Linked DNA regions of Homo sapiens: regions 1 and 3 are each linked to region 2. Evidence: fine-mapped expression QTL. A gene starts in region 2. Each other region holds a variant in brackets. All regions are shown on one strand. Distances are from middle to middle. Region 1 overlaps IPO5 (importin 5). Region 2 holds the start of IPO5 (importin 5). Region 3 has its middle 77 kb from the start of IPO5.

Evidence for each region. PIP is the estimated chance that this variant, and not a neighbour inherited with it, causes the effect. A credible set is the group of variants that fine-mapping cannot tell apart.
Region 1: its variant is the best candidate, but not a certain one, in a credible set for the expression of IPO5 in whole blood (TOPMed, PIP 0.77).
Region 3: its variant is the best candidate, but not a certain one, in a credible set for the expression of IPO5 in fibroblasts (GTEx, PIP 0.82).

What each region holds. Positions count from the first base shown.
Region 1 is chr13:97,991,889-98,003,065 of GRCh38, forward strand. It overlaps IPO5 (importin 5), which reads left to right. Exons shown (of 29, transcript NM_002271.6): 10 at 1,004-1,126; 11 at 1,217-1,337; 12 at 5,643-5,730; 13 at 8,651-8,757; 14 at 10,579-10,703; 15 at 10,796-10,885; 16 at 10,976-11,149. Among named protein-coding and RNA genes, the nearest start is that of IPO5, 44 kb to the left of the region's middle. The variant G/T (reference allele first, on the strand shown) is at 5,882.
Region 2 is chr13:97,950,584-97,955,583 of GRCh38, forward strand. It overlaps IPO5 (importin 5), which reads left to right and starts at 3,092. Exons shown (of 29, transcript NM_002271.6): 1 at 3,092-3,133; 2 at 3,536-3,615.
Region 3 is chr13:98,024,741-98,035,917 of GRCh38, forward strand. No RefSeq gene overlaps it. Among named protein-coding and RNA genes, the nearest start is that of IPO5, 77 kb to the left of the region's middle. The variant A/C (reference allele first, on the strand shown) is at 5,130.

The sequences.
Region 1 (11,177 bases), 44 kb after region 2:
TGCTTGTGTCACAGGTGCAGGACATTTAGTATCCATGGCCTTTGCCCATCCTCAATCGTGTGACCATCAAGAAATATCTCCTGGGTGAAAACCATTCCTCTTGAGAACCACTGAGTTAGAGAGGATTTAGAGGAGCTAAAATTGAAGGTTTCCACATGATAAGTTATTTAAAGGATTTAGTGAAACTTCTCTCCCCCTGCTATCACAATGAAAAGATAGTTTCGTGACAGAACATAAATTGTAACATACTATTGCTTTAGTAGTTTATTATCTGAAATCTCTAGTTACTGTTGAAATCTAATCCCGGTTTTCTTCCTCTGGATTTAGAGTAAGTTAAAATGTTTACCACAACTTTTAAGAGTTGTTATTCTGAAATAGATAATGATAAACACAAAATGCATACTTTAATACCACAGTGACCAGACTTAACATCCAAGATAAATAAAATGGGTAATATTGGACACTTTAAATGTATTACAGGTTCTAGTACTTACTATGCGTATGAGAAAAACTAGGGCATGGATATAAGAAAGGACAGAAGAGCCAGGTGTGGTGGCCACACATGTTGTCCTGGCTACTCAGGAGTCTGAGGCACAAGAGTTGGAGGGTACTGTGAGCTATGATTGTGCCACCACACTCCAGCCTGGGCGACAGAGCGAGACCTTATCACTGAAAAAATAAAAGGACAAAGGAAAGGGACTCCTGGTTATAAAAAAAAGTAATTCCTTGGTAGCCTTAAGTATTGTAATGGTTATTATAGTTTCACTGATTTTCATTTTGACTTAGATGTAAATCTGTTTTGAATGTTTCTAGTTAACATCCATCAGAAGGAAGGTATACATGTGCCTGCAGGTAGAACATTTGCATAATATAGATTGCTAAATTATTTAGTGAAAAATAGTTTAGTAATATTTCTCTATTGTCAGCATCTTAGGAATCTTTTGGCTAATGAGGCATTATAAAGTGAATCTTCAGCACCGACTTTCTGTTTCATCTTTTCTAGGCGGTAAATGACTCGTGCTACCAGAATGATGATTCTGTCCTAAAATCCCTCGTTGAGATTGCAGATACTGTTCCAAAGTATTTGCGTCCTCACTTGGAAGCAACTCTACAGCTAAGTCTAAAGGTAAATTAAGTACGTTAGTAAACGTTCTGTTTGTTATTTTCAGGGACTAATCTAAATTATTAAATGTATACAAATATGTCTTCTTTGTAGTTGTGTGGAGACACTAGCCTCAACAATATGCAACGCCAGCTTGCCCTTGAAGTGATCGTCACCCTCTCTGAGACTGCAGCTGCTATGTTAAGAAAACATACCAATATTGTTGCACAGACTAGTAAGTCAATGGTCTTCAGATAGTTTATGTGTATTGTGGCCAAATTTTTGGATAAATTTGCTGAGGGTTGTGTGATTTCTCAGATTGTTGAGAATATAATGAATATCCTTTTAGAATCAGATGAATTTGGGAAAATGCATCTCAATACATGCAAGCGTGGACCCCCACATTGTGGTTATGCCTTTAAGACTTTGCAGACACCCTGAAATCTGGTGTTAAAAATAACATTTCTAGAGTGGAGTGTGACAGACTCTATCATTTATATGTTAATATTGGGCACAGTTAATAGAGTCAAAAACAATTCAGCGGGGATATATAGATGCACAGTAGCGAACTACAAACCAAAATAGCATGTCTTGCTTACCAGTGAAGCCAAGATTAGAAGAACAAGGTCTAACACTAGTCATGGCTCTGTTCACTATATTACATTGCTTTTGTTTTATAGACCCTCGTTGCAGCAGAAACTTAAATGGCTATTGTGCTATGGAAATACTACTTTAAGTTTCATTGTGCTGGGATAAGGACTTGAGAACTAACCTGATCATTTTCTGGCCTAGCCATTTCTTAATGAGCTAATGAGTACTTGAACACTTAATTTAGAGGGTAAATACGTCACCAGATTTATTTTGTAGTGGTACCTACCTTTTGTCTTACACTGAGGTAGTGGTTGGAATTTTAGAAACATTCCCATTTAAGTCAGGAACAAGAAAAATATCTCCTTTATCACTGTTCATGTTGTACTGACTGCCCCAGCTGATGCATTAAGAGATAAAAATAAGTTATAAGCATTAGAAACAATGGCTGGGTGCAGTGGCTCATGCCTGTAATCCCAACACTTTGGGAGGCCGAGGCGGGCAGATCACCTGAAGTCAGGAGTTCAAGACCAGCCTGGCTAACATGCTAAAACCCCGTTTCTACTAAAAATACAAAAAATTAGCCAGATGTGGTGGTGCACACCGGTAATCCCAGCTACTCGGGAGGCTGAGGCAGGAGAATTGCTTGAACCCGGGAGGTGGAGGTTGCAGTGAGCCCAGACCATGCCATTGCACTCCAGCCTGGGCAACAAGAGCGAAACTCGTCTCAAAAAAAAGAATTAGAAAACAAAAATATTGCTTATTTGTAGGCTATGTGGTTATTGTCTACAAAAAGTTTTAAAGACTCAACAGATAAACTGCTAATCAAAGGGTTAAGCAAGATCCTTAGATATGAGAACATTTTATTGTAAGTGTTCCATTATTCATAATAATCATTTAGAAAATTTTATAGGCATGAGTTATAGTAACTGGGAATAAATCAAAAGATGTACAAGACATATGGGAAAGTTGAATAACATATTGAAAGACTAATAGAAGAACAAATTATCAGTTCTCAAATTAATCTAGGGTTATGATAGAACAATCCTGAAATTCTTCTGAAAGAACATAGGGCCTGGAGTAGCCAAGACAATTTTGACGAATAAAGTGGAGATCTTGTTTCATCAACTCTGTGAATTTAGAATGCATTGATGATGCAGGTGTTGACAATGGATCGGATGGAACAAAGGGTAGAGTGTAGGAGAAGATCCGCTCACATGGGAACAAAGCCATTTTTAAAAAGATAATTGATCAAAAGTTCTTGGGGCCAGGCATACTGGCTCAGGCCTGTAATTCCAGCAATTTGGAAAGCCAAGGTGGGTAAATTATGTGAGCTGCTGAGTTTGAGACCAGCCTGGGCGACATGACGAAACCCTTTCTCTGCCAAAAATACAAAAATTAGTCGGGCATGGTGGCACACGCCTGTGGTTCCAGCTACTCAGGAGGCTGAGATGGAGGATTGCTTGAGCCCAAGAGGTCAAGGCTGCCGTGAGCCAAGATTGCACCATTGCACTCCGGCCTGGGTGACGGAGTGAGACCCTGTCTCAAAAAAAAAAAAAAAAAGTTTCTGGGATATCTTTCTTTCATTCTTTCTTTCTTTGTTTTTTTTTTTTTTGTTTGTTTAATAGGTTTATGGGGAACAGGTGGTGTTTGGTTTAGTGGTGATTTCTGTGATTTTGGTGCACCCATTACGGGAGCAGTGTACACTGTACCCATTGTGTAGTCTTTTATCCCTCACTCCCCTCCCACCCTTTCCCCTGAGTCCCCAAAGTCCGTTGTATCATTCTTACACCTTTGCATCCTCATAGCTCAGCTCCCACTTATGAGTTGAGAATATAACTGGTTATTTCTATGGGGAAAAAAATTCCAACTCTAGACAGCTTATTAAAAAAACAGGCCGGGCGCGGTGGCTCACACCTGCAATCTCAGCACTTTGGGAGGCCGAGGCAGGTGGATCACGAGGTCAGGAGATCAAGACCATCCTGGCTAACACTGTGAAACCCCGTCCCTACTAAAAAATGCAAAAAATTAGCCGGGCGTGGTGGCGGGCGCCTGTAGTCCCAGCTTCTCGGGAGGCCGAGGCAGGAGAATGGCGTGACCCGGGAGGCAGAGCTTGCAGTGAGCCGAGATACCGCCACTGCACTGCAGCCTGGGCAACAGAGCAAGACTCTGTCTCAAAAATAATAATAATAATAATAATAATTTGGGGTCTACTCAAGACCTGAATATTACCTTGCACGCTGGAACTAGTTAAAAAAGTTAAGGGCTAAATATTACAGATATATTTTACAAGTAATGCTTAATAGTAGATAATTTTCTAAGACTGAATCACAAACCATTGATGTAAACATTGCCAAATTGGCAAATGCGAAAACAATTTTTTGACCAATCAGATACACCATAAATGAACTGAAAAAATAAGCCACAAACTGGAAGAAAATAATTACAGTGCACACAATCAACAGTTTTGTTATCTAGAGAATACACAAAGGCTGAGAAGAGGAAATTCATTGCTTTTTTCTTCTTTAAGATGGGGTCTTGCTCTGTCATCCAGGCTAGAGTGCAGTGACATGATCTCAGCTCACTGCAGCCTCCCAAGTAGCTGGGACTACAGGCACGCACTACCACACCTGGCTAATTTTTGTGTTTTTTGGTAGAGATAGGGTTTTACCATGTTGCCCAGGCTGGTCTTGAACTCCTGGGCTCAAGGGATCCTCCCACCTAAGCCTCCCGAAGTGCTGGGATAACAGGTGTGCACCAGCAGGCCCAGTCAGGAAATTCGTAAAAGAGGGATCTGAAATAGCTAATGAACCCTGCTAAGTCTCAATAAAAACAAGTGTAATTGTGGAATACAAGTTGTCCAGAAGTTTGACAGTATCAATTGTTAATAAAAGATGTGGAACTGAGAGGACGCTTATTCCACCCCCAGGGCACTTCACACATTTTTGTGAAATAACGGAGACCTCCACTTAAACTTCACATAGTTTATGCAACAGCTGTGCAGAGCGCAGCTTGTTTGGTAATTTTCTTTTTTTCTTTTTTTAGACAGAGTCTCGCTCTGTCGTCCAGGCTGGAGTGCAGTGGTGTGATCTTGGCTCACAGCGAGCTCCACCTCCCAGGTTCACGCCATTCTCCTGCCTAAGCCTCCTGAGTAGCTAGGACTACAGGTGCTCGCCACCACACCCGGCTAATTTTTTTGTTTTTGGGGTTTCACCATGTTAGCCAGGATGGTCTCGATCTTCTGACCTCGTGATCCGCCTGCCTCAGCCTCCCAAAGTGCTGGGATTACAGGCATAAGCCACCGCGCCTAGACTTGTTTGATAATTTTTTAGTACTATTTGAAGATAGTAATAACAATTTCATGCCTAGACTCATGCTTGTCAAAGAAAAGATGTAATAATCTCATCAAAGCAAATTTTATAGGAGGAAAAAATTGGAAACAACCAAAATGTTTATCAGCTAGACAGTGGGTAGTATGTTTATATAATGGAATGCTATTAAATAAACTGAAATCCTTATGTGTTGAGAAAAAAGCAAATTGCCGAGGTACATATATTATGAAACCATTTATTATATAAAAAATCAAATCTTGAAATAGTACTATAATTTTGTATAGAGATATGGAAATCTGTAGTTCAAGTGTGAAAAAACAATTGCGGAATGAGAAACATTTGTGATGTTGCTTCTTACCTCTGGTGATGGGGAGAATGTAATCGGATTTGGGAATTTCATAGGAGGGTTTGACTTAATGAATGTTGCTTTTTAAAGAAACGATAAAAGCAAATATAACAAGGTTAAAATTTAACAAACCAGGTTTTGGGGGCACAGACAAATAATTGTTTTGTCTTGTTCTCTTACAGGCAAAGTAAAATCTTAAAATTCTTGTTTATAAATAGTGATATGGATAAGATAAAGTCACAGTCTTCGGGTATGAAATAATTGTTTACTTTAGTTCCTCAGATGTTAGCAATGATGGTTGATTTGGAAGAAGATGAGGACTGGGCAAATGCAGATGAACTAGAAGATGATGATTTTGACAGGTAATCAAACATTGTGTCCAGGGTGGCAGTGAAAGCCCTAGGGCTCCACGGTCCATCTCTTCACTATTGCACCCTGTAACCTGAAGGTAAACTTTTAAGCCTGGAATATGGGGCACTTTGCCTTGCTGTTGTATTTATTGCTGTGTCACAT[G/T]TTATAAGTAGTATTTTCTTTAGTTTTCATGTATAATTTATATTAATAAAATTTATGTTTCTTGGAAGTTCATAAAAATATTTTAATAGTTAATACATAAAGTTGTATTTTATAATCAGGAACTGAAAGATACCTACAACAACAAACAAGGAAGTTTTTCTTTTTTAAAAAAAAGTATGACATGAAAACAGCAAATAAAGTAGCTATGTTTTTTGTTTGGTTTTGAGACGGAGTCTCGCTGTGTCGCCCAGGCTGGAGTGCAGTGGCGCGATCTCGGCTCACCGCAAGCTCCGCCTCCGGGGTTCACGCCATTCTCCTGCCTCAGCCTCCCGAGTAGCTGGGACTACAGGCACCTGCCACCACGTCCAGCTAATTTTTTGTATTTTTAGTAGAGACGGGATTTCACCATGTTAGCCAGGATAGTCTCGATCTCCTGACATCATGATCCGCCCGCCTCGGCCTCCCAAAGTGCTGGGATTACAGGCGTGAGCCACCGCACCTGGCCAAGTATCTATGTTTTTAACTGTCGTACTCTAAATTATTTCCAAGTTTTTTGTTGTTTTTGTTTTTGTTTTTAGTTTGAATATCTTTTAAAACGTGTATAAAGCAGCTTTTTTGTGATAAATGCTTTTACAGGCAGAGACTTCCCTTAGAATAATTGTTTCAACAAAATTCCCTGCAATACACATCATATTTTCCTAGTAAAAAGCAGTTTAACTTTAGGATAGGCAGCATCCAGTGGTGAAAAGATGAGAGTCAACTGGGTAGAGTATTACTATTGTACTTATTTATTTCAGCTTAGGAAGTCCCATGAATACAGGAAAAGTCAACCAAAATCTGTATTCACTGTGCAGTAGTAATGATGGCCCCTTACATGTATGTGAAACATAGCACCTCTGAGCTCTGTTACTTTAATCAACTTTATTAGCAGTCCCAGAGGTGTATTATATTACAGTTGCAGAAAGGGAGATTGAAGATTGAGTGATTTGTCTGAGGTTATGTAGCCAGTTAATGGACTGGGGTTAATTACCATTGTTTTCATTCTTCCCAGTGCATTATACTACCACCTTTTCTTTAAAAAAGCTGAAATTGGCTGGGTGCAGTGGCTCACACCTGTAATCCCAGCACTTTGGTGGGCAGAGGCAGGCAGATCACCTGAGGTCAGGAGTTCGAGACCAGCCTGACCAACATGTTGAAACCCCGTCTCTATTAAAAATACAAAAATTAGCCGGGCCTGGTGGCAGACACCTATAATGCCAGCTACTCGGGAAGCTAAGCGAGGAGAATCTCTTGAACCTGGGAGGTGGAGGTTGCAGTGAGCTGAGATCACGTCATTGCGCTACAGCCTGGGCAACAGAGCAAGACTCCATCTCAAAAAAAATAAAAAGCTGAAATTATTCTCCTGAAAGACTTGGAGTCAGTATAAACTACTAGGTTAATAAAAGTAAAAATTAAAGATTTTTGGCTTTAGAATATATATGCATTTTTGAGACTTAATCCCATTGTTAAAAATGACTGATTTCTGGCTTTAATACTGTCTTGAAGTATATGAAAGTAATCTTTCACTGGAAATCACCTGATAACGGCTGAAGAGAAGACCAGGGCTAGGTCGAATTTCCTTTTTGGTTCAGTTACTGTAATGTGCTGCTACCTGTCCTTTCATTTGCCCTGCAAATGGCACTTAAATTTATACAGTTTAAGAAACTTTGTTTTCTAAACTAGATGAATAAGATTTTCTCATTTGTGAAACAGCATAAATATATTTTCAGGGTGAGATTTTTTTAAGTCTAAAAACCTGTTCTGAAGATAATTTATAGTTTCATTTTTATAGTATTGTCTTTACATAGTAAAGATAATGCACATGAAATACACTACTGATCCTCCAGTTCTAAGCCAGGATAAGTCCAAATGCTTTTATGCCCACATTCCTTTGGCTTTCAGAGAAGACAATAGAATTGAGTTTCACATAGCTATGCATAGTTTTTGGCAGTGCAGTTTGCACCCCTTTAAGGGTGAATAAACTCACAGTGGGGAAGATTATACATTCTCTGCACCCTTTTCAGTTTTCTATGTTCTGTTCATTGATAGGTTTGAAGACTGTATTTCTAGGAAATGAAATACATGAGGCTCTTTCAATACTGCTTTTACTGGAGTGTTGAAAGTGTCAGAAGCTATTTCTGAGAACAGTTTTTAGCCAGTAGCGGGTGGGGGTGGTCTTGAAAAATAAGATTCAGGCTGGGCACAGTGGCTCACGCCTGTAATCTTAGCATTTTGGGAGGCCCAGGCGGGCGCATCACAAAGTCAGGAGATCAAGACAATCCTGGCTAACATGGTGAAACCCCGTCTCTACTAAAACTACAAAAAAATTAGCCAGGCGTGGTGGCGGGCACCTGTAGTCCCAGCTACTCGGGAGGCTGAGGTAGGAGAATAGCATGAAGCTGGGAGGCGGAGCTTGCAGTGAGCCGAGATCGTGCCACTGCGCTCCAGCCTGGGTGACAGAGCGAGACTCTGTCTCAAAAAAAAAAAAGAAAAATAAGAATCAGGCATGACTTTCTAAACTATGGTGGATCATGATAAAAACATTTACTCTTTTTTCTTTTCTAAGCTGCAGAGTTTTTAACCCCTAATTTCAATTCCACATTTAAAGACAGCTTGAATTCTTTCTCAGTCTTAGTTTAATAATAATATGGTTAGAAGTATGTCTGTAGAGTATACTATTTCTTTTGTGTTTCAGATATATTGAGTACATAATTCTGTTTATGTGTTTAGCAATGCAGTTGCAGGCGAGAGTGCTCTAGATCGAATGGCTTGCGGACTTGGTGGAAAGCTCGTTCTGCCGATGATCAAGGAACACATTATGCAAATGCTTCAAAATCGTAAGCTGTGTCCTTCAAATGCTAGAAGAGTGAAGTTGTGCCCTTTCTAAAGCTTAAATTCTAAGATATGTTTAGACTGTTAAAAATTAATCTTTGTCTTTTTATCATCCATATTTAACCCAATTCATTTATTTTACCGATAAAATTGTCAATCCCAAAGAAAATGTACAGATTTACTTCCTAGCCAAAAGTATTTAGATTTGAATTTGAAAATGATGTTATTATTTGAATTTTTATGGAATATTAGAATGTTTGAATCATATACTCTTCTTTCACCCAATATCTTTTATTTTTAAAAGAAGAAACTCTATCTAATGTTATCAAAAGAGAAACCACTTCTTTCTTTCTGTTTTTGCCCCTGACGGAGGTGATGGTGGAAGCCCACCTGCCCTGGAGGGCAGCTGTTGTTGTTGACACAGGATTTCGCCATGTTGCCCAGGCTGGTCTCAAACTCCTGGCCTCAAGCAGTCCTCCTGCTTCAGCCTCCCAGAGTGCTTAGATTATAGGCATGAGCTACCACACCTGGCCATCCTTCCTTTTTATTTCTATGAATATTTCAGTTACCTTTGTACCTGTAATATATATATCAATCCCAAAGTTTATTGTTGTATGTGTTTTATTTTCATTTGTGTTTTTTAATTATAAAGTTAATGTGTTCTTTTGTTAAATTAAAATTCAGAAGTATTAAGTTAGAAATTTGTTTGTTTTTTGGTGGAATCTCGCTCTGTTGCCCAGGGTAATGTGATCTCAGCTCACCGCAGCCTCCACCCACTGGATTCAAGCGATTCTCCTGCCCTAGCCTCCTGAGTAGCTGGGACTACAGGCACATGCCACCACGCCCAGCTATTTCGAGACAGAATCCCACTCTGTCAAACAGGCTGGAGTGCAGTGGTGCAATCTTGGCTCACTACAATGTTCACCTCCCAGTTTCAAGCAATTCTCCTGTCTCTGCCTCCCAAGTAGCTGGGATTACAGGCATACACCACCACACCCAGCTAATTTTTGTACTTTTAGTGGAGATGGAGTTTCTCCATGTTGGCCAGGCTGGTCTCAAACTCCTAACCTCAAGTGATCCGCCCACCCTGGCCTCCCAAAATGCTGGGATTACAGGCATGAGCCACTGCACCCGGCCTAATTTTTGTATTTTTAGTAGAGACGGGGTTTCGCCATGTTGGCCAGGCTGGTCTTGAACTCCTGACTTTAAGTGATCCACCCGCCTCAACCTCCCAAAGTGCTGGGATTACAGGTGTGAGCCACCGCGCCTGGCCTGATACATACTTTTAGAATCAAGTAGTCACGCACTTTTTCTGTTCATTTTTCTAAAAAGTAAATATACAAATGTTTTGTTTTTTGTTTTTTTTGTTTGTTTGTTTCTGTTTTTTTTTTGAGACAGAGTCTCGCTCTTTCGCCCAGACCAGAGTGCAGTGGCGCGATCTCGGCTCACTGCAAGCTCCGCCCCCCCGGGTTCACACCATTCTCCTGCCTCAGCCTCCCGAGTAGCTGGGAATACAGGCGCCTGCCACCGTGCCCGGCTAATTTTTTGTATTTTTAAGTAGAGACGGGGTTTCACCACGTTAACCAGGATGGTCTCGATCTCCTGACCTTGTGATCCGCCCGCCTCAGACTCCCAAAGTGCTGGGATTACAGGCGCGAGCCACCGCGCCCGGCCTATACAAATGTTTTTATATTATATATACATATACCCTTTTCAAAAAAGTTTTGTTACTCTTTTCCAAATAAGAACTTTTATACATCTCCCTCTACCAGAATGACATGTTTATAGTGTGTAATTGCTATTCCATCTGTAATTTTTTTCGGTAGCTGACTGGAAATACCGGCATGCAGGATTGATGGCCTTATCTGCCATTGGTGAAGGGTGCCACCAGCAAATGGAAGGAATTCTAAATGAGATCGTAAATTTTGTTTTACTTTTTCTCCAGGATCCTGTAAGTACCAGTAAATATTTGATTCAAAATGATTAGTGTAGCTTCATGTGGAAACCTTCTTGCTTTTACTAATGAAAGGGAACATTTTCCAGCATCCAAGAGTAAGGTATGCAGCCTGTAATGCCGTGGGACAGATGGCTACAGATTTTGCACCTGGTTTCCAAAAGAAATTTCATGAGAAGGTAAGTAACAAGTCCTCAAACACTTAAATCAGACTTTAGGAAGAAGGGTGGACATTTCAACATGTGTGCCCATTTGGTTTCATTTCACAGGTGATTGCAGCTCTGCTGCAGACCATGGAAGACCAAGGCAATCAACGTGTGCAGGCCCATGCAGCTGCTGCCCTCATTAACTTTACTGAAGACTGTCCCAAGTCACTACTTATTCCATACTTGGATAATTTGGTGAAACATCTGCATTCCATTATGGTACTGAAGCTTCAAGAGGTAAGTTTTAAGATCTGTAGGCTGCTTT
Region 2 (5,000 bases):
GAAATCAATGTATATTCCCCTAAATCCTGTCTTTGGTGTAGGTTTGGAATGCCCAAGGATCAGCCAGTGCAGTCAGGTCTGCTGGCACCTTCCAAAAAACCAAGTGATATGGTTTGCCTGTGTCCCCACCCAAATTTCATCTTGAATTGTAGCTCCCATAATTCCCGTGTGTTGTGAAAGGGACCCGGTAGGAGATATTTGAACCATGGGGGCAGTTTCCCTCATACTGTTCTTGTGGTAGTGAATAAGCCTCACGAGATCTGACGATTTTATAAGAGGTTTCTCCTTTCACTTGGTTCTCATTCTCTCTTGCCTGCCACCATGTAAGATGTATCTTTTGCTTTCCACCATGACTATGAGGCCTCCCCAGCCACATGGAACTGTGAGTCCATTAAACCTCTTTTTCTTTATAAATTACCCAGTCTCAGGTATGTCTTTTTTTTTTTCTTTTTTTTTTTTGAGACCAAGTCTTGCTCTGTCACCCAGGCTGGAGTACAGTGGCACAATCTCGGCTCACTGCAACCTCCACCTCCTGGGTTCAGTGATTCTCCTGCCTCAGCCTCCCAAGTAGCTGGGACTACAGGCACCCACGACCATGCCCAGCTAATTTTTCTATTTTTAGTAGAGACAGGGTTTTGCCATGTTGGCCAGGGTGGTCTCGAACTCCTGACCTCAGCCTCCCAAAGTGCTAGGATTAGAGGCATGAGCCACTGTGCCCAGCCACGGTCTTTATCAGCAGCATGAAAACAGACTAATACACCAAGCAACTGGTCAATGTCATAGGCACTGGAGAAACTTCTCGGATTTGTTCTTTTAAAATGTTCTTCAGGAAGGGCACAATGGCTCACCCCTGTAATCCCAGCACTTTGGGAGGCCAAGGTGCTCCCAGCTCACTTGAGGCCAGGAGTTCAAGATCAGCCTAGGCAACACAGTGAGACCCTCCCCCAACGTCTACAAACATTTTTTTAGAACATTAACCAAGTATGGTGGGGCATGCAGTGAGCCATGATTGCATCACTGGACTCCAGGGTGGGTAACAGTGCAAGACTGTCTCTAAAAAAAGAACTAAAAAATAAACAAATACGTAACTAAATAAAATGTTCTTCATACATTTTGCAGTAACCTTGTAACCATTCAATCGCTGATTCTGAATCTATGTAAATTCTGGTATCAGACCCTTGGTAAGATGCTTGAGCAAAATGCCATGAAGACACCTGCCCACAAGCCAAAATGTTAGAAGTCAGGTGCAGTAGCGAGCTCCTGCAGTCCCAACCACTTGGGAGGCTGAGGCAGGAGGATCTCTTGAGCCCATAGTTCGAGACCAGCCTGGGTAACATAATGAGACCCCTGTCTCAAAAACAAAAAAAGAACCAGTGACATAGGATGAGGACGAAGAAGCAAGGAATAGTGCTGAAGAACTTTCAGGATATGCGGGGTGACACTAGAAAGTGCTTAGACATCACACGTTACCAAGAAAAAAATGTGACCTATACAAAGGAGTCTGCCCATGTCCTATGAAACAATTTAAAAATCAAAAATAGGCCGGGTGCGTTGGCTCATGCCTGTAATCCCAGCACTTTGGGAGGCCAAGGTGGGCAGATTACGAAGTCAGGAGATCGAGACCATCCTGGCTAACATGGTGAAACCCCGTCTCTACTAAAAATATAAAAATTAGCCGAGCATGGTGGCGCGTGCCTGTAATCCCAGCTACTTGGGAGGCTGAGGCAGAAGAATCGCTTGAACCAGAGAGGCAGAGGTTGCAGTGAGCTGAGATCACACCAGCCTGGGCAACAGAGAGAGACTCTGTATCAAAAAAAAAAGAAATAAATAATTACAAAAATGGAGTTTGGCTTTAATTAATGATCTGAATTAATAAAAACAACAAAATGCTAGGCCAGCGCAGGGGATCATGCCTGTAATCCCAGCACTTTGAGAGGCCGAGGCAGATGGATCACTTGAGGTCAGGAGTTCAAGACCAGCCTGGCCAACGTGGTGAAACCCCATCTGTACTAAAATACAAAAATTATTCGGGCATGGTGGTGGGCACCTGTAATCCCAGCTACTTGGGAGGCTGAGGCAGGAGAATTTCTTGAACCCGGGAGGTGGAGGTTGCAGTGAGCCGAGATCACGCCACTGCACTCCAGCCTGGGCAACAGAGTGAGAATCTGTCTCAAAAAAAAAAGAAAAGCTAAATGTACAAAGCTAGGGCATTGAGATCCATGAGAATACAGGGCAAAATTGATGTTAATCTGTCATATAAAAATTTAATTACATCCCATAAATATCTGCAATTTTTTATTGTTTATTTTTTGAGACAAGGTCTCACTCTGTTGCCCAGGCTGGAGTGCAGTGGTGCAATCACAGCTCACTGCAGCTTCAACCTCCCCCGGCTCAGATGATCCTCCCACTTCAGCTTCCTGAGCAGCTGGGACTACAGGTGTGCACTGCCACACGCATCTAATATTTGCATTTTTCATAGAGATGGGGTTTTGCCATGTTGCCAAGACTGGTCTTGAACTCCTGAGCTCAAATGATCCTCCCACCTCGGCCTCCCAAAGTGCTGGAATTACAGGCATGAGCCACCCCGCCCAGCCAATATTTATAATTATTACATGTCAACTAAAATAAAAGAAAAAGTAATTTAATCACAAACCCAGTTGACATAAACGTATGTAATATGGAATTTCCTGTTGTTTCCATACAAATTTATCTTTGTCTATTTGAGAGATCAATTTCTCTTTTCAGTATTGAGTAGTGAATAGAATCAAAATCTGTGGGTAAAGAAGCTACTCAGACAGTTTCAAAACTGAATTTGATGACACATTTGTACCCAATCTGAGTGGCCCCCAGCAACATGGGTTTTGAGTTCTCAAAGGCCAATAGATAGCTCCCTTTCCTTTCCACAGCTTTGGGAGCTTGGGCTACCCTGTAACGTCTAAATGCCTGTGCAGTGTGGGCCTGTGAAGCTGGCAGGGTGGGCAGTGTAAATGCCCACTAGCAGGAGCCAGCTGACCTCCTGCGTGTCACAATAGCAGCCAGGTGTCTCCACGGTGACGTCTCTGAGCCAGGAGGTCAGAACTGTGGGATTGATGACCTCCCACAACTGGAGCAGCCGGGAACAGCTCTGACCACAGTAAGTCATCCCAAAACCTCACATTCAGATGAAACCATTTAAGAATTTCATCTGCACTGAGGAACAATTTAGCGTGATACTGGAGGGAAAGAGTTTCCCTGTGAGATCCAGGAGGTCCCTTTAGCTCGTCTCCTGACGTCACCACAGTCATACCCAAGAGGAAGGAAACGTCAGAGACAATGATTTGGAGAACATTCTACACAAAAACCAAGTATGAAACAATGACGATTTCATGATGGCTCATTGTTCTTTGGTATTGTGCCTTACGTGAGCTGGGGACTAACTCTGTATCCTTAAGGAGGCATCACTTGATTAGAGTTGCCCAAAAGAATGTGGGTTATTATCCTAAAGGTCTGTGTTGCCATCCTGAAACAGTCAGAAATCAGTTTTTATTTCACTTAGGTGGTTCCGGGGAGAAGCCTTTCCAGGACCCATGTGTAGGCACAACTGTTTTCCCTGATCAGGATACTTGCGGCACTCAAGTGAGTCTAGAATTATCAGATTTTGTTCTGTCTCTCTTCACTGTGAATTCTATTCTTTATTTCCTTTAAAACAAAAAGCTCCTGCTATTTTCTCCTATAATTATGATATCTGTTTCTTGATCATTTTACCTTCTATTCACCAATTAATTGAAATCCAACCCATCAGGATTATCTACCCTGCTTTCCTATAGGGAGAATAAAAAGTGCTTAGAAGCAGTATGATTTTCACTGCCTTTAATTTCTCAAATCCCAAGATGTTCCATTTAAAATCTTTAGAGTATCTATTTTGTCTTCTGTACATTATGGTTGTATTCCCTCAGAGGCCGAGTATATTTTATCTTAGTTTTCAGAGATCACTAAAGTCAAGTAAATGAAGGAAAACAGAATTCATTTTCATTATGGGAAAACAAAATCAATCCCTAAGTAGTCAAAAGATTACTTACTTAAGGAACCACCTGGTTAACTTCTTCTCCTAGAACTTAATCCCCTAACTAGGGGTAAAAAAGGCTCATTGTCATCTTATAAAGTATTAGATACCAGGGACTTGTCAAATGCTAATGCCTTTATTATAGAATGTTTAATTTAGACCTTCCTAAACAGTTTTGCTTTCTTCCGTCATTTGTCTGTGATGGAACCTCAAAGACACTAACTAGTATGCGAGACAGATTTGTGTTGGAACATTGTGTTAGCTTTCCAGTAGAGTTAAAACTCTGGAATGCAATTATAAACCTCCAAATGAAAAATACCGGCCGGGCACAGTGGCTCACACCTATAATCCCAGCACTTTGGGAGGCTGAGGTGGGAGGATCACTTGGGCCTAGGAGTTTAAGGTCAGCCTAGGCAACATAGTGAGACCCTGTCTCTACAAAATATAGAAAAAAGTAGCCAGTTATGGCAGAATGCATCTGTAATTCCAGGGACTCAGGAGGCTGAGGTGAGAGGATTCCTTGAGCTGGGGAGGTCAAGACTGCAGTGAGCCATGACTGTGCCACTGCACTCCAGCCTGGGTGACAGAGTGGGACCCTATCACGAAAAAAAAAAAAGAAAAATACCTAAGTGGCCAAATACCTTATAAAGTTCATGCATGCTACTCTACAGGAAATATCCTCAGCTGTCTTCTCTGTGCTGAGTTCATATACTCTTGTGCCTAGTTCATACATGCTTGGTCATCTGCCTTCCAAAGCACACAGCAAACCAGATGATGAGAGCAGCTGACAAGTGGAGACAGTTGTCATTTTATGTTGGCAGCTACAATAAATGACACTGTCTGATGGAGAAAATGAGCGGGGAAAACACTTCCAAAACACAGGCAGAAATATAAGAGTTGAAATCCCAGAGTTCCAGAACAATTTCACCTCAGGGCAAGCAAGCCTAAGTGGCCTGTG
Region 3 (11,177 bases), 77 kb after region 2:
GCACTCCAGCCTGGGCAACTGGGTGAGACTCCATCTCAAATAAAAATAAAAAAAAAAAAACGAAATCACTTTGCTTCTCTTAACCTTCTTTGCCACAAAAGATTAACAGCCAAAACCTGCCATGTTTGCTATTCCTAAGCAGATTTTCTTTCTCGGCCCTAAAAGTATGAGTACCACTATTAGAAGAAGAAAGTGAATGATCCACAATGTATGCACATCACACTTGGGAGGAAGCATGAATATTTATTTCCAGCACTTGGAACTTCTGAATGGTGGTGCTGAGGAGCAGGGGTTAATTCTAACAACATCCTGCCCTAGACTTAAACCCTTTTTTCCCCACACAGCTGTAACCCTTACAGTGTATGCCAGACAACATTTGGGCTGATTATTTCTATGTATTTATTATATTTGGATGAATACAAACATTTTAAAGATAAATTATAGCTATATTATTCACTTCTCAATGAATCCAAAAGTGGTACAATATAATTTTTTGTAAAACATTACAAAAAATTTTTTCTAAATTCCACTAAGGCAGCAGAGTATAATTATGAAATCTGTTCTTTCATGATTCAGGAGCTTTCATTGTGTATTTCCTTTTGATTGATCTATCATTTCTGTCCTCTTGACTAGCATTCAGATTGTAATGGAAACCAGAATAGTGCCACTTGATATGAATCAGAAATTAGTTCCCCTATTTCCCCTAAAAGTTTTGTAACAGATGGGTAGAAAATGTAAGAGTTTGGATCAGCCCGACAACTTGCTCCTGTGATCCTAAGGTGCACCATAAAAGACCATGGTGCTGTATGGTTAAGACCAGAGGTTGGCAAATGTGTTCTCTAAGTTCGAGATAGTAAATATTTTAGCACTCGTCACCGAACAAGTATGTGTTTGCAAGTTATAGGGTCTCACAAACTGCTTAGCCGTTGCAGTGCGAAAGCAGTCATGGACCATAGTAAACAAACGGGTTTGGCTGTATCCCAGTGAAACTTGACAAAAGAGGCTAGCCATAGCTGCTGACCTCTGAATCAAATCACTGTGTCAGTTAAAAAATCCCAGTCTACCATGTACTCAGCTTACCTAACCTCTGTATGCCTTAGTTTCCTTCTCTGTAAAATGGGAACAATAATAGTACATACCTTATAGAGGGTTCAGATGGATTTAGAAGCCAGGCACATTAAGCATTAGCTATCAGAATTACACCTAAATTCTATTAATACTTACAGATAATTTAAGCAAACTTTTTTTTTTTTTTTTTTTTTGAGATGGAGTCTCCCTCTGTCACCAGGCTGGAGTGCAGTGGCGCGATCTCGGATCACTGCAACCTCTGCCTCCCAGGTTCAAGTGAGATGCCTCCCAGGTTCAAGTGATTCTCGTGCCACAGCTTCCCGAGTAGCTGGGACTACAGGTGTGAGCCACCATGCCCAGCTAATGTTTGTATTTTTAGTAGAGACAGGGTTTCACCATGTTGGTGAGGATGGTCTCTTGACCTCGTGATCTGCCTGCCTCGGCCTCCCAAAGTGATGGGATTACAGGTGTGAGCCACGGTGCCCAGCTGCAAACTTTTTTTTTTTTTCAAGTTCTCTAATCAGCCTTGGCATTAGGAGGAAGCCTAGAAAGTTGTGGAAAATATTGGGAAACTTTGCAAAGTCAGTGAAGTTGTGCCATAAACGTGGTGTATGTGGACTATTTTACTTTCTTGACACTGTGATTCTGGTGTTTGAAGATGCCTGATCTGCATAAGACATGGCCCTAAATGCACCCATTGCCTCATCTGGAGCTCCACCCTAAAAAGCAGCAGTCTGTCCCTGTTTGGAGAAGACATTCAGTTTGCTGCAAGAGCTGGTTTGTTCGGTACACTGAACTGTAGGTCACCAGGGACTTTTGCCCCCATGCTCACATGAATCTGGCATCTATGTAGGATGAGATCACTGTCAAGGCCATTGTACAGGAGTGGACAGCTGGAAAGCTTTGCCCCCTGGGGTCACACTTCCTGCCTGGCTGTGGCCCCTTGCGGGAGCTCCTTAATCTCTTACATAAAGTTAACGGCTACCACACAGGGTTGTTGTAAGGCTTAATATATGTATAAAGCACCTAGAGCAGTGCCTAGCATTGTAGATTTGATATTATGAGTACACATGCTGAAGAGATGGAAGTACATTTGGATAGCATTTCTTTTTGTTAGTGTCAACCTAAAAGAGGATCTCAAAAAGAAAACGTTTATTTGGGAGTAGAGCATTGCAATGGGAATGTACATGCCATCATAGATGATGAGTATATTGAGGGAAAAAAAGGTTTTTGTGGGTTTTTTTGGTTTTGTTTAATTTTGTGATGACAGAGTCTCCCTATGTTACCCAGACTGCTCTTGAACTCCTGGGCTCAAGTAGTCCTGCTTCAGCTTCCCAAAGTGCTGAGATTACAGGCGAAAAGAGAAAGGTTTATAAAGGAAGAAATGAGGATTACATCGTTGTTTTGAGATAATTATCCCTGACTGCACAGGTCAGTAACAAGGGTGATGCCAGTCCAAGGTTGACAAGCAGTTGGATGTGTGCTTGCAGAAGTATTTTTTGTGTGAGGTTGCAAAGGCCTTTGTGCAAAGTTGTGATTTTTGTGGTCTTTGTCATCATGCGTACAAACATGAGAACCCTCTATGACCTTTCTAGCTGTTTGTCCGGGTGTTCTTAACATTAGTGACTCCTTTTTTTTTTGAGACGGAGTCTTGCTCTGTCACCCAGGCTGGAGTGCAGTGGCGCAATCTTGGCTCACGGTAACCCCCACCTCCCGGGTTCAAGTGATTCTCCTGCCCCAGCCTCGTGAGTAGCTGGGATTACAGGCATGTGCCGCCATGCCCGGCTAATTTTTGTATTTTTAGTAGAGACGGGGTTTCACTGTGTTGTCCAGGCTGATCTCGAACTTCCAACATCAGATGATCCAGCTACCTTGACCTCCCAAAGTGCTGGGAGTACAGAGTGAGCCACCGAGTCTGGCCTAGTGACTGACTCCATTTTGATTCTGACAATTTTCAAATTAGTTACCTATGGCATAAAACATGCAAACCATGGAAAACGGAAGTACTTGCTAATCAAGAATTTGATTGACTTTTATTAAGCTATTGACCAAAACTACGTTAGGCTTGCATAATAAAGGGCTGAGTAAAACACATGGTCTCTGCTACAGGGGACACATCATTAAGGAAAAGTAAAGGGTGCACTGGGTGTACCCTTTGATGAAGAAATCAAAGAAGTAAATTCACTTAATATTGCAAATAGGATGTGCATTGAGCTGCCTCAGTTTCAGCATTATAGCAAACTGCACCAAAGATAAAAATACATGTGCTCCTGGTCATTGAGAAATCCCTCCCCAGGTGATGCATTTTCCAGCCTTGCTACTCACAATTGGTTGTTCTTGGGCTGCTGCAGAGGTGACCCAGAGTGGGGCATTTGTGACCAGACAGGTCACCGGATGTGCTCCCTTGGAGGGTGAAGGAGCCAGACAGGCAAGCAGGAAGTTTTGGTCTCCCAAACTGCCTTACACCCAAACCCAGATCCTTCCTAGGGGCAGTATTGCTATGAGATAGTCCCCTTTCAATTAACTGACAATTGGGTTGGCAATGAAGAAAACCTGCCAGATTATTTGTAGCCATTTAGAAAGTTGGCCCCAACCCCCAGAGCAGTTACTGTCTTGTTTCATCCGTTCCTAGAAATCTCCTAATGGGGTATGTGGTCTTGTTTGGTGTGTCTGTTTCTGTCCCGAGTGTGCTGCTGCTGCTTAATCACACTCCTGAATTTTCTCAAATCTTCTATGATTTAGGGATTAACTGGCATGTTTTATCTAGTTTTAAGAATTTAGCCAGCCGGCCCAGTGGCTAATGCCTGTCATCCCAGCACTTTGGGAGACCAAGGTGGGTGGATCACAAGGTCAAGAGTTCGAGGCCACCCTGGCCAATATGGTGAAACCCCCGTCTCTACTAAAAATACAAAAATTAGCTGGGCGTGGCGGGAGGCCAAGGCAGGAGAATTTCTTGAACCTAGGAGGCGGAGGTTGCAGTGAGCCAAGATCACCACTGCACTCCAGCCTGGGTGACAGAGCGAGACCCCGTCTCAAACAAAAAAAAAGAATTTAGCCATTGAGGCTGGGCGCAGTGGCTCACACCTGTAATCGCAACATTTTGGGAAGCTGAGGTAGGTGAATCATTTGAGCCCAGGAGTTCAAGACCAGCCTAGGCAACATGGAGAAACCCCATCTCTACTAAAAATGCAAAAAAAAATAGGCATGGTCGTTCAGGTGTGTAGTCCCAGCTACTTGGGAGGCTAAGGTGGTAGGATAGCTTGAGCCTGGGAGGCTGAAGCTGCACTGAGCCATGATTGCATCACTGCACTCCAGCCTGGGTGACAGAGTGAGACCCTGTCTCAAAAAAAAAAAAAAAAGCCATTTAAATAAAGTCCCTTTTGATTAAGAAATATTGAAAGTGAAAATATTTAAGCAGTTAGGACCCTATTGCATTTTCTAATTTGAAAAAGAATGTACAGTTTATTACTGAAGGGTCAAAGAAGATAGATGTGTTTGAAGAAAAATATAGCCCATCACTATCTTGAGTGTTCTCCAATTGGTTCTCATGGGAAAAGGCTGCCATTATTACAAATGGTCAATAGCCAAAAAACAAAGGCTCACATTGTAGCTGATATTTCAAGAAGAATAAAAATACAAAACAGCAACACTAATGTGGAGACTGGCGATGGGCAGAGACCTCCTTCTGGAAGGAAATTAATGAAATGCCTACATGTCTTTCTGATGGGTAGGAACTATTCTAAGAAACCAACTGCCCACCTGGTTAACCCAACCTGAATTCTTTAACCAGACATTATATAAGTCAACAATGAGGCCGGGCGCGGTGGCTCACGCCTGTAATCCCAGCACTTTGGGAGGCCGAGGCGGGCGGATCACGAGGTCAGGAGATCAGGACCATCCTGGCTAACACAGTGAAACCCCGTCTCTACTAAAAATACAAAAAATTAGCCGGGCGTGGTGGCAGGCGCCTATAGTCCCAGCTACTTGGGAGCCTGAGGCAGGAGAATGGCGTGAACCCGGGAGGCGGAGCTTGCAGTGAGCCGAGATCGCGCCACTGCACT[A/C]CAGCCTGGGCGACAGACAGAGCAAGACTCCGTCTCAAAAAAAAAAAAAAAAAAAAAAAGTCAACAATGATTAACTACATTTATTTTTTGCCTCTAAAATATCTCTACAACAAAATCTTTGAAATTTAAGTAAATTTATAACACTCTTGACTAAATTATCTGAAAAGGGTTTTTTTTAAAACGTCCTCCCATAAGGAAAGATGATCAATTCTTATGTATCGTTCTAGGGATATAAATATTCAGGAGGCTTTTCAGAATAAAAGTTAAATCATTTTAGCTGGGAATTCTCAAAATTTAACCCTGTTAAAGATGAAAGTTGGCGGGGCGCGGTGGCTCACGCCTGTAATCCCAGCACTTTGGGAGGCCAAGGCGGGTGGATCACGAAGTCAGGAGATCGAGACCATCCTAGCTAACATGGTGAAACCCCGTCTCTACTAAAAAAAAATACAAAAAAAAAAAAAGATGGAAGTTAAATATCTTTTGCCCTTTTCAATAAATGACAACCTATAAATTAGTATGGCCAGTGCTGGTGATCATCAAAATGTTGAGAATAGCATCACCATACTGAGTTAGAACCTCATTTCATCTTAAACTAAGTGGCATTGGGCCAAGTCTCCTTTAGTACAATTCAGCATATGAAGTTCTATTCTCATTGGGGAGCATATTTTCAAGTATGCGTTTTTATAAATTATAACAATTGCTTATTTTTTTAAATGTAATAACATTGTTCTGTTTTTAACATTTATTTTATGGTTACCTTCTATTTATGACAAATGAGTCAGGCTCGGTGGCTCATCCCTGTAGCCCTGTAGTCCCAGCATTTTGGGAGGCTGAGGTGGGAGGATTGCTTGAGCCCAGGAGTTCCAGGCTGCAGTAAGCTATGATTGTACCACTGCACTCCAGCCTGGGTGACAGAGTGAGACTCTTGTCTCCAAAACAAAAACAAATACCAGTTTTTCGTTTGTAGTAATGATTTAAAATTTTCTTTTCAAACACTTCAAAAAAAATAAAAGTCAGTGAGTTGATTTATTTTTAATGTAATGTAAACAGAGCTACAGTTCTGAGGACGTGGCAAAAATCATGCAGATGATACTGATGATGGAAGTTCAGGAAATCCTTTTTCTTGGCGGAGGGTAGCCATGCAAATATGTCTCTCAGAAGTTTTGTTCTACTTAGTTTAAAGAGATACAATGACTCTGTGGGACTGGATGAACAAGGCTCAGTCAGCAAGAAGAATCTGTCTCTGCCAACTCTCCCCATTAAACAGTAACTTCCCACCCACCACCCAGGCTCCTGGCAGCCCCCATTCTACTTTCTGTCTCTGTGAGTTTGCCTACTCCAGATACCTCGCGTTAAGTGGAAGCATACGGTATCTGTCTCTTCGTGTCTGCCTTATTTCACGCAGCATTATGTCCTCAAGGTTCATCCTGTTACAGGATGGGTCAGAACTTTCTTTTTAAGGCTGAATATGTTGCCTCTCTTTTATTTTTCTCTCTCTCTCTCATCCTTCTAACATCTGTATGACCAGTTTGCTCTATTAAATCCCTGTTTGAAATACCTAGTATGGTCTCTGTTTTTCTGATTAAATCTTGACAGATACTAAATGTACACAACAATTTATTTAGTGTATTCGATGTGTATATTTTTATGAGTAAATTAATAAGAAAAATACATTTTTTACTCTGTGATCCTCAGTTTTGACAAGTTAAACATTCCTTAACATACTCGTAAGAAGAAAACAATGTATTCAAGGAGGAAATGTTCATTTAATATTTTCAAGAAATGAATTCATTATAACAAGTTTTAGTTAATCAGTTCATTTGGTGAATTCAGATCATGGATAGTGGGCAAATCGATCTTTTAGTAACATAGCTTTTGGCAAATTAATGTTTGGTAAATTGGCCCCACTATTCTCTTTCACCCCAGCCTGGCTCAAAAGTCATTTCTTTTGTTGTTGTTCTTTTTTTTTTTTTTTTTTTTTGAGATGGAGTCTTGCTTTGTCACCCAGGCTGGAGTGCAGTGGCACAATCTCGGCTCACTGCAACCTCCGCCTCCCAGATTCAAGTGATTCTCCTGCCTCAGCCTTCCAACTAGCTGGAACTACAGGCACATGCCGCCACGCCCAGCTTATTTTTTATACTTTAGTAGAGACGGGGTTTCACCATGTTGCCCAGGCTGGTCTCGAACTTCTGAGCTCAGGCAATCTGCCCACCTCGGCCTCTCAGAGTGCTAGGATTACAGGCGTGAGCCACCGCGCCTGGCCCCAGCCTGAATTTGAATTGCATGTATATTCTCTATTTCCAAATCTCTGGATTTGGAAAGTGGACTTAACATCATTTTCTGCCTCAGTTCACTCATTGGGAAATGGAGAAACGCCTCCTTGGTATGGTTGCTGAGAGAATTGAGTGTGGACAGGAATGCAGAAGGCCTGGGAACCACGGGCAGACGCCCTGTGCTGTGCTGAGCCAGCAGAAGGCCTGCCTGGCCCTTGTACCTTACATCTCCATTCCCTTAAGAAAAGGAGAGTTTCGCAATTTCTAAAAATTAGCATCTACGGTGTCTACTAAGTTATTTTATCTCAGAACAAAAATGTAACAGAAAGGTTGATAGTGTACACAGTAAAATAATAAATGGAATTTGTGGTGACTGATTTATACTGTGATTATCTTAAAACCTAAGAACATTATATTTTAAAAGTTTTGCTCTTTTATCTGAAAATGCAAAATGTGTTTTTTATTATATATTTTAAGGATTCATCATCCCTGAATTATGCTACAGGAAAGACAATTGCCACCCCACAAAATCAGTATATGGAAAGTCTTATTACTGGGTTTTTTTCATAATTCAGACTATCAATAGTTTGTATTCTGAGCAGCTTATGTGTGGTTTTCATATTGTATTTTGAATGGCCTTTTTGGTTATTTAAAAATGTGTCTCAGCCGGGCGCGGTGGCTCACGCCTGTATTCCCAACACTTCGGGAGGCTGAGACGGGCGGATCACAAGGTCAGGAGATCAAGACCATCCTGGCTAACATGGTGAAACCCCGTCTCTACTAAAAATAAAAAAAAAATTAGCCAGGCGTGGTGGCGGGCGCCTGTAGTCCCAGCTACTCAGGAGGCTGAGGCAGGAAAATGGCGTGAACCCGGGAGACAGAGTTTGCAGTGAGCCGAGATGGCGCCACTGCACTCCAGCCTGGGCGATAGAGCGAGACTCCGTCTCAAAAAAAATAAATAAAAATAAAAATGTGTCTCTCTGGCCAGGCGCAGTGGTTCACGCCTGTAATCCCAGCACTTTGGGAGGCTGAGGCAGGCAGATCACTTGAGCCCAGGAGTTTGAGACCAGCCTGGCCAACATGGTGAAACCCCGTCTCCACTGAAAATACAAAAATTAGCTGGATGTGGTGCCAGGCACCTGTAATCCCAGCTACTCAGGAGGCTGAAGCTGGTGAATTGGTTGAACCCTGGGAATTGGAGGTTGCAGTGAGCTGAGATGGCGCCACTGCATTCCAGCCTGGGCAGCAGAGCAAGACTCCGTCTCAAAACTAAACAAATAAATAAATAAATAAATAAATAAGCCTCTCTCTGGAGAAAACTGAGAACCTTGAGGGGGCAGCAGAGGAGCATCACTCACTGCTTTAAAAAGTTAGAGAACGACGGCTTCTGGAGCTTCACCATCTGAGGGAAAAATGCTTATGTGGAAGCATTTCTAAAGAATATACCAATTAGATGAGAAATGCGTCAAAGCTGAGGACTTCTCTCCAGGTGTACGGCGCGGCTGCCGTTTCAGCTGCTGGTCAGGGCCCTGCCTTCATCCTTCCATGCTCAACTGAATTCAGAGGGCAGACAGGTGAGAATGAAGCTCATCATGAACAATAGAACCCTAGGGGCAAGAAAGGTACAAATGATTCTCTAACAGAGCCATCCTGGGTTAATTATTAGTGTGTCTCCCACGAAGCCCGTCCTGGGTTAATCATTAGTGCGTTTGTACTGTCTCTTCTGATCCCCCTCCCTTGTTGGGGAAAATAATCTCACTAACAACATAAAATTGGTAAGGCTTGAGGTCTGAGCTATTATTTAATTAAAGTTATTTTGAAATTTTTGTTGTTGTTTTTTGAAACAGGGTCTCACTGTCACCCAGGCTGGAGTGTGGTGGCACGACCTCCGCTCACTGCAATGTCTATAAGCCCGGGCTCAAACGGTTCCCCCACCTCAGCTTCCCGAGTAGCTGAGACTACAGGCATGGCCACATCCCCCGGCTAATTTTTTTTTGTTTTTTGTAGAGACAGGGGTCTCAGTATGTTGCTCAGGCTAATCTTGAACTCCTGGGCTCAAGCAATACACCCGCCTCAGCCTCCCAAAGTGCTGGAATTATAGGCATGAGCCACCACACCTGGCCTGAAAGTATTTTTAATTGGGAGATACTTTAGAAACCTTTCTATACATTCAGTGCCAAATAAATGCAGTCATTAACGTGACAAATAATTAATAGCTATTTGATTATCTAGTGTTATTTTTTAAGTGCCTTTTTCTTTTTTCTTTTGAGACAGGGTCTCACTCTATCACCCAGGCTGGAGTGCAGTAGCGTGAACACAGCTCACTGCAGCCTCGACCTCCCAGGCCCAGGTAATCTTCCCACCTCAGCCTCCCAGATAGCTCAGACTACAGGTGCACCACCACGCCCTGCTCATTTTTTATGCTTTCTGTAGAGACAGCGTTTCTCACTATGTTACCTGGGCTGGTCTCGAACTCCTGGACTCAAGTGATCTACCTACTTTGGCCTCCCAAAGTGCTGGGATTGTGGCCGTGAGCCACCACACCCATACTTTTTTTTTTTAAGAGATAGGATCTCACTCTGTCACCCAAGTCTGGAGTGGTGCAATCATAGCTCACTGTAGCCTCAAACTCCTGGGTTCAAGCCATCCTTCCACCTCAGCCTCCCAGCAGCTAGGATTACAGGCATGTAGCGACACACCCAGATAATTTTTTCATTTTTTGTAGAGATGGAATCTCGCCGTGTTGCCCAGATTGGTCTCAAACTCCTGGCCTCAAGCAATGCTCCCACCTCAGCCCCCAAAGTGCTAGAATTATCGGCATGAGCCACGGCACCCAAACTTAAGGCAATATTGAGATTCCAGATTCCACATATTCCCACTAGAATTATGGCCTGCTACAATATGGTAAGCAAATGAGTAAGAATTTGGAGAAACCTTGAGAGTTTTAGGACCACAAATAATAACATAGTAGGATTAAGGGAAACATTGAGGATAAATATTAGAAAATATGAAAAAAAGAACTGTTACCCTAAAATACAGGTTAAGCTAGCTCTATGTACTTAACACATTTCTGAAGAAGAATGCATGTTCCATATGGTGAATACTTTTTATATTGTTATAAATGTGGCACATGCCCATGGAGAGAATGATAGCCTTTATGCATGATGAAACCCGTCATTTTGACATAACTCTGGACTTGCTCAATTATGTCTTTTGCCATTACTATCCATTTTAATGCATTTAGCTCTCCCACTCAAAGTGGGCAAAAAGAATGCTCAATTTATTGATTTCTCTGTATAACCAAAGGCAGACATGGGGGTGCGCACCTGTTACCTCAACTACTTGAGAGGCTGAGGCGAGAAGGTTGCTTGAACCCAGGAGTTCAAGGCTGCAGTGAGCTATGATTGTGCTATTGCACTTTAGCCTGGGCAACAGAGCAAGACTCTGTCTCTGGGGGAAAGAAAAAAAAACTTGTGTGTGCCAAAATATGTGGCCGTGTGGTGGTTTTCTTTAGAGCAAAAGGGCAGCCCCATGACTTCAAGACTTCAAAGGTAAGCACGGAAATTTCCCCTGTGTGGAGTGAGCATTTTCATTTCCATCACCCTGAAAAAGGCAGGTCCTAGATTCGGAACTGGGGACTGGCGAAGCAGGCTTTTGATGAGAAGGTTTGGGACCTAGTCATGTGGGTCTCGTCTCTGACTGGCCCAAGCCCACGCAAGAGCACTTTCCCACTGGAAGCTCAACCAGCCTTTGCCACATGGAGCCAGCCCAGATA